Linked DNA regions of Homo sapiens. The main gene of each other region encodes a partner of the protein of the gene in region 2 in a complex. Each region holds a gene or a part of one and is shown on either strand. Other genes may lie near its edges. The genes, in order: SDC4 and SDCBP.

Region 1 (3,911 bases), on a different chromosome or scaffold from region 2:
GACCTGGTCAACAGCTGGCCAAAGTGTACCATTCTTTCTTTCTCCCGGCTAGATTGACCCCCCTACTTAACAGGGCTCCCTTGGAGCCTGGGGCAGGCTGGTGACCCCGTGTACATATGTGTTCATGCGTGTGTTTATGTGTTTGTGGTTAAATGTCCAGGTCAGTGAAGCCTGGGTTCTGGCCCAGTGTGGCTACTTCCTGCTTGTGTGGCCTTGGACAAGTGACTTTACTTTTCTGAGCCCTTGTTTCCATCTCTGCAAAAAGGGACTATTAAAAGGACCTAGACAGGCTGTGTGCTTGGTTAAGGCCTGTCACTTGGGTTCTTGGGGGATTTGCCACAGGAGATGGAGGTAGGAGCACAGGGACCCTGCCCTTAGGTATAGGCACTTGGGCAGCCATGAGGAGCCTTCCTCCTGCTCTGCCAAACCAAAGCCACAGGCACGGGCTATGTGCGGGGGCTTGAATTCCAGCACCAGCAGCCCGGCAGCTCCTGATTCCCGAGTCATGAAGTCATCTCTGAGCAGCACTTAACCTCTCTGGCTTTCCACCCCCACGGGTGCCAAGCGTTCAGCATTCTCCCCACTCCCCGGGAGAGAGTGATTCCTGGCCACTGCCTTCCTTGTGGCCTGACCCCGCTCCCTTCCGGGAATCCAGCATTCTCCCTCTGTGGGGGTGGAAGAGGGTGCATGAGGGTCAGGTTCCACCTGCCTCTCCCCAGAAGCCCAGTGGGGAGAGTACAGGAGTGGCTCTGAAGCAGCTTTCCTGGGCCTCTCCTGCAATGATAATAACCTTATCTTAGGGACAGATGTTCCTTCTCAGACACCCTCCTTTGTCAATGGCAGTCTCAGCTGAGTGAAGGACTGCCTGGGGTGTCCGAAACAGAGACCTGACCTCTTTCTATCCTGAGTTATGTAGCGAACGCTCTGTGTGACCTTGGGCAAGTCCCTGCCCTGTTCCGGGCTCAGATTCAAGTTGTGTGAAACGGGAGGACAGGAGCTCCTTGGGTCCTGGCATTCTGTGATTCTAAGCAGACCCCCAGCTCCTGCAGTTATGGCGTCTGGAGAAGATGGGAATGTCTTTCAGCGGGAGGGGCATGGTGTATTGAACTTAATGAAAAACCCCAACTCTCCTGGCAAATACTAGGCACTTTAGTGTTTGAATTAATTAGTAGAATAATGAACTTTGCTCAGAGCTGCTGTTCTCTGGGCAAACAGAAGCCTGAGCCCAGAAGCTGGAGGAAGGGTGATGGGCATCCAAATGTTTCCTGTGCTCTTGAGGGTACATTGTTCCCACTCGGTGGAGCTACAGGATGGGAGCAGGGTAACTGATGTACTGTAGGGCTGCCCGGGACCTTTGACACTTTCTTTTGGCAAGCGGTTTGGTGGGAGTGGACCTGAGACTCTGTCCTGATCAGCTGTGTCTCCACAGGGTAGTGGCTGAGTGATGATTATGGGTACTGGAGTGGATGGTCTGTGAGGGTAGGGATTGTGCCTCTCGGTGTCTGCATGGTGCTGGCAGCAGAGTAGATCTGTGGGAGATGTTTGGAAGGCAAGACTGAATCCAGGAGTACACTCCTGAGTCATCAGGTCTGGGCAGCGCCCTGACCTGAGGCTGTCTTAGGGTGTGCGTGAGGCAGCCCTGTCTGTCCCGGCCCAGACTGACTCAGCTGGGAAAAGTATCCTGGACTGGGCAAGACCAGAACCAGGAGCCCACTCCCTGTCCTGTGTGAATCAGCTGCCACTGCATCACAGAGCCCTGGAGTGTAGCATCCCAGGGCCCTGTGCATGGAGACTCCTGGCTCTGAAGTCAGGCAGCCCTGCGTATGCAATCCTCGCTCTTCCATCTGCCAGCTGTGTCACCAAAAGAAAATGACTCCCTCGGCTGTAAAAAGAAGTGAATAACATGCCTCCAGAGTTATTAAAACAGGGCCCAGCACATAGCAAGTGCTCGGTAAAGGATATCTAGCCATATTAATAATTTGATTATTACCTCATTTACTGTTTTTATTTTTTTTGAGACGGGGGTCCCACTCTGTAGCTCAGGCTAGAGTGCAACGGCGTGATCCTGGCTTATTGCAACCTCCGCCTCCCGGGTTCAAGCAATTCTCCTGTCTCAGCCTCCCGAGTAGCTGGGACTACAGGCGTAAGCCACCACGCCCAGCTGATTTTTGTATTTTTAGTAGAGACGGGGTTTCACCATGTTGGCCAGGCTGGTCTTGAACTCCTGACCTCAAGTGATCTGCCTGCCTCCGCCTCCCAAAGTGTTGGGATTACAGGTGTGAGCCACTGTGCCCAGCCTCATGTACTATTTTTATTTGCCCAGAATGGAAAGAGACTTGCCTAAGGACACGCGGTGAGTTAGAGGTAGAGTGGGATCCAGGACGCAGGTCTCCAGGCCCTGGCCTGGTCTCTTTCTAGTTTCTGAATGCCCACTTCACTAGCTTTTGGGCATCAGCTGTCATGGAGCACTGGGGATGTTGGCTGATGTGTCTCCTTTCTTTATCTTAGATCCGAGAGACTGAGGTCATCGACCCCCAGGACCTCCTAGAAGGCCGATACTTCTCCGGAGCCCTACCAGACGATGAGGATGTAGTGGGGCCCGGGCAGGAATCTGATGACTTTGAGCTGTCTGGCTCTGGAGATCTGGGTACGGAAGGTGTGCTGGGCAGGCGTAGGCACAAAGCTGGAGGGAGTGGTGGCTTCACCAGCCAGGAGGGTGACCATGCCTTGAGACTTGGATTTTTGTGGGACTTTTCCTAGAGTGCCCTTCTTCCTTCTCAAAAAAAGGGGAAACAAAAGTAATGGATTAACCTATTCCATCCCTGAGAGCCCCTGGGGACAAGCTGTTTGCTGCTTTGAAGTCATTGGTAGCTCTGGGTTTTCTGAGCTCCAGCCTGAACGTGTCCTCATAAGCTCTTCTCTTTTCTGCAGGGCATGGTGGGGGTGGGGTGAGGGTAGGATGGGTGGCAGGACAGGGTGGGAGTGGGGAAGGAGGACCCATAGAGTGTTTTCCTTTTTTTGAAAGGAAAAGTTCCAGCCTGGGCCACATGGTGAGAACTTGTCTCTACAAAAACACAAAAATTAGCTGGATGTGGTGGCATGCACCTGTAGGAGTCCCAGCTACTTGGGAGGCTGAGGTGGGACGATCCCTTGAGCCTAGGAGGTTGGGGCTGCAGTGAGCCAAGATCATGCTACTGCACTCCAGCCTGGGTGACAGAGTGAGACCCTGTCTCAAAACAAAAAAGGAAAAGTAGCAGCTTAGAAGTGGGGATGGGGTGGGAGGGGGCATGAGTGGGCAGAGATGTAGTTGGGAAACCAAGAACAAGTCCCTGCTTCAGTGGGGGTGGGGGCGGGTGAAGGGCCCAAGGCCTCTAGGCCAGACAGCTAATAAGTGTCCCTCCTATGTGCAGAGAGGTGTTAATGATTGCAAGTTTTAGCTTTGCAAGTTTTAGCTTTGGAGTCACATGGTCCTGAGTTCAAGCCTCCATCCTGTGTGAACTGAGCTTCAGTTTTCTAATCTGTAAAATGGGAATAATAAAGATAGTACATCAGTGTTGTGGGGACTGAACTGACTTAAAGCTTTTGGCACCTACCAAGCACTCAGTACGTGTGTGTTTGGTTTAAAAAAAAAATAAATTTTATGGCCGGGCACGGTGGCTCATGCCTGTAATCCCAGCACTTTGGGAGGCCAAGGCAGGCAGATCACGAGGTCAGGAGTTTGAGACCAGCCTGGCCAACATGGTGAAACCCCGTCTCTACTAAAAATACAAAAATTAGCCAGGTGTGGTGTCGAGTGCCTGTAATCCCAGCTACTTGGGAGGCTGAGGCAGGAGAATTGCTTGAACCCGGGAGGCAGAGGTTGCAGTGAGCTGAGATCACGCCATTGCACTCCAGCCTGGTGACAGAGCAAG
Region 2 (3,911 bases):
AAAATTTGCCTAGAATACCTAAGAAATGTAAAAAAGTTGCCTGCCTGCCAGAAGACTTGTTACTTTATACCTTTTTATGCTGCTTAAATTTTGAGACAAGTGACTGTTTACCTACTCAAAAACAATACATTTACAAAACATGTTGGCAGCACTTGAAAAGAAATTAATAAATGCTAACGTAACTATTGCTAAAAGTAGAAAGTATTTCAAAGTTATTTGGGGGCGCTTTTCTTTTTTAGAATCTCTTGGCATTTAATACCTATAAAAAGTTCCCAAATCTGGCAAAAACAGGGAAAATAGTTGTCACGCTCATTTTAAGAAACTCTTTAATTAAACAGTACATTTAACCGGCAACCATTAGCAAATTCTTCCCCTTTTGTTCATCTTTTTCCCCTTTTTACATCTTTTCCTATAATGCCCAAAACTAAAAGTTAATGTCTCCAAAGTTAAATTTAATTTATAATGGAGTGACTATTTACTGACCATTTTAAAAGTCATTCTACTTCTTTTTATTCTGTGCCACAAACCACTAGATTTATAATATTTATGTACCATTTAAGGCACAAATTTTATAGAATTAAGTTGGTAACACAGAAGACAAAAGGACGTATTTTCTACCGTTATCCCTCAATCTTAAACAGGAAAATAAAAAGACTGAACAAATTTGAGTTTTAACTAATCACATACACATTTAGAAATCAATTTAATTTAAAAGGCCCGCAGTTGTTTTTCAAGGTAAATTTCCTGCTTTAATCAACGATTTCTTTTTGAAACAAGCGGATGTTAAGAGTTTGGTAAGCCGAGCGTACTTTCTAAGCAATGTACGTAATGGAAAAGATAACAGTAAATGTGTATGTGGTTATACAGACTAGATAATCTACAAACTCCTTTCAAAAATGGACACATTAGAAGACTCCATGACTCAATAATCACCACTTTGGTAAAAGTGAAAACTTTCCACATCCATATGCCTTCCCTTTCCCATTATTACAAGGAAATCCTGAAAGGAAGGCTCTGAGTCATCATATCTCAGGGGTCAGATCTCAGGGGTATTTCCTTCTAAACACACCCTACTGGAAACGTTTCTCCCTCAGGTCCAACTTCTCCAGGAAAAAGCTCAAAGCGAACAACCTCTCCCCACCCCCTTCCAAAAAAGTCAAGGCTTCGCCCAATAAACAAACACTTCCTTCCTCCTTTCAAATCCAGGACTTTCCGAATAACCCAAAAGAAGGGCGATTAAGCACAGCCCTAGAAACGCCGAGCACTGGGAGGAACCGTGGCCAGAGGCTCTTTCTTATGTCGAGATCTTATCGAGGAGAAAACAAGGATCGAGAGACGGTCCCAGGAAGAACCCCAGAGCTGGGGCGGGGGCTGAAGGCGTTCACCCAGCCGGGCCTCCGGGCTCTGCCAGCCCCAGCCCCAGCCCCAGCCCCAGCCCCAGCCCGGGCAGGAACCCGAAACGCGCGGGGTCGCGGCAGGAAGAGCGCGCTGCTCCCGCAAACTTGCCCCCCCAGCCAGCAGGGCGCAGGGAGGGGCGCGGAGCCCCCTGAGGAGAGGGCGTCGCCGCTGCCTCGCGAAAACGGCTGCGACCAGGATGCAGTCTGTGAAGTGGCCCAGGGACCGTCACACCTCTGCCCCAAGTCCCCGCGCCCGGGACCTGGCACCGGCGTCCCTCCTTGCCCCCTTGGCCTCTCACCTAGCCCACAAGGAACCGCTCGCCGCCGCCGCCTCCGGTCACTGGCACGGACTTCTGAGGCCCGAGTGTAAGAGAGCGGTGCGCGCCCGAGGACCGCCCCCGAGGCGCGTCATGGCACCGCCCCCGCCTTCAGCCCGCGCAGTCGCACGGCGCCGGGTCGGGTGATCCCGTCCCCAAGGTAACGGGGCGGTAGGGGTAAAGAGGCCTGGGTGTGGGTCGTTCCTGCAGCTCCAGGTATCCGGCAAAGTGGGGCGGTTCATGCCGCCCGCTGTCCGCTGCCCGCTGCCCAGCGGTTATGCTCCCAGTCTTCTCCGCTCTTCGGCTGTTCGTGCCCGCGGGCCCCGTGCCACCCACTCACTACTGTGTGCATCGCAGCTCACGGTCGCTTGGTTCTCGTCGCCTCCAATTCAAAGAGGTCTCGGGAGCCCCTGTTCCCTCTTGGGATGCCTTCGACTTCCACCACTTGCTGCCCTAGTCTCACTCTCCGCTTGCTGTACCTCTCCACTATAGGCTCAGAAACGTTCCTCTCACGACCCCTTCTCAACTCCTGCTTTATTTTTCTGTTGGAAATTTGGATGTTGGGGGTGGGGGGCGTATTACTCTGTCCGCCTAAGCTAATATTCCTTCGCTATTGAGAGTTAGGTGTGGTGCTGCGCAAAAGTAATTGCTTCCCAGTAAAAAAACATAACGATCATTTCTTGAGGGCTGATTTTGTGCCAGCCATAGCTCTACGAACTTAATGTATAGTCTTATTTGGTCTTCACATCAGTCTATAAAGACATCCCATTACAGACAAAGAAACTGAGGCACAGTTTACCCAAGAGTAATCATAGTTACCACGGAATACTGTAGAGTCCTTGACAAAATAGCATTTACAAGCAGTTTATTTCTAGCTAAATTAGTGCCAGAATAATTTAATATATGGCAAAACTAATAAAAATCTGAGTGTAAAAGAGGTGACAACTAAAGATGAAAACTTTGCTCTCAGTAAGGTTATAGTTAGGCTGATGAAATGGACATTTAAAAATAATTACAAGGTAGATTGGGAAGGAAGAAATAAAACTTTTTGCTTTCAGATGAGATGGTTATCTAACATAGAAAATCCGGAAAAAATTGACACTCCTCGCCTAAAAAAACAGAATGAAAAGCAATTATAGCAAGTTTGCATGAGCAAGTTTAAAACAGGCTCATTCTAAGCCAAAATGCTTGGGACCAGAAATGTTTCCAATTTTGGATTTTTTTTTTTTTTGCTTTTGTAATATTTGCATTATATACTTATGGGTTTACCATCCCTACTCCAAAACTCAAAATGTTCCAGTGAACATTTCCCTTGGTCCTCATGTCAGCACTCAAAAAGTTTCATATTTTAGAGTAGTTCATATTTTGGATTTCTGTACTAGGAATAGTCGACCTGCATACATGGTCTGTTGTTTTCTTATATACCATCAATAAACAATTGGTATTTGAAATTAAAAACAATAACCACTGACATTAGCACCAAAATAAAATGAAATATTTAGGTATAAATCTAACAAAATATGTAAAAGGTTTATACAAGAAAAACTACAAAATTCTAAATAAAAAAAACTTCCAATGAGAAAAACTACAAAGTTCAAAGGAGATCTAAATAAATTTAAAGATATTCCATTTTCATGGATAGGAGTACTTGATATTTAACTGTCAGTTCTGCCCAACTTAATCTATAGATTTGATACAATCAAATCAAATCAATCAAAATCCCAGCAAGTTATTTTGTGGATATTAACTGATTCTCAAGTTTATATGGAAAAATGAAAGACCAGAAGAGCCAAACCAATACCAAAGGAGAGGAACAAAGTCAGAGGCCTAACAGTACCTTAGTTCAGGCTGTTGTAACAAATTGCCATAGATTGGGTGGCTTAAACGACAGAAATTTATTTCTCACATCTCTGAAGTCTGAGAAGCCCAAAATCAAGTTGCTGGCACATCTGGAAATCTGGTGAGGGCTCACTTTTGAGTGTGCAGATGGCATTCTTCCCATTGTATCCCCACATGGCAGAAAACAAGACAGATAAAGCACATTCTCTTCTATCTATTCTTATTAGGGCATTCATTTCATTACGAGGGCTCAACTCTCATGAGCTAATTATCTCTCAAAAACCTTGGGTCTAAATACCATCACATTGGAGATTAAGCCTCAACATATAAATTTTGGGGGGACACAAACATTCAGTCC

The links.
Region 1: the proteins of SDCBP (region 2) and SDC4 are in contact, whole or in part, in a crystal structure (PDB 8BLV), measured with the Homo sapiens proteins. Residues at the interface, in NP_001007068.1 of Homo sapiens: Gly207, His208, Val209, Gly210, Phe211, Ile212, Phe213, Lys214, Thr219, Val222, Asp251, Ser252, Ala255, Leu258; in NP_002990.2 of Homo sapiens: Thr193, Asn194, Glu195, Phe196, Tyr197, Ala198.

The regions. Positions count from the first base shown.
Region 1 is NC_000020.11:45,334,518-45,338,428, reverse strand, and holds part of SDC4 (syndecan-4 precursor), read left to right. Parts: intron 1-2,508; coding exon 2,509-2,647; intron 2,648-3,911. UniProt on the Homo sapiens protein: Cell surface proteoglycan which regulates exosome biogenesis in concert with SDCBP and PDCD6IP.
Region 2 is NC_000008.11:58,551,089-58,554,999, reverse strand, and holds the start of SDCBP (syntenin-1), read right to left. Parts: upstream 1,740-3,911; 5' UTR 1,697-1,739; intron 1-1,696. UniProt on the Homo sapiens protein: Multifunctional adapter protein involved in diverse array of functions including trafficking of transmembrane proteins, neuro and immunomodulation, exosome biogenesis, and tumorigenesis.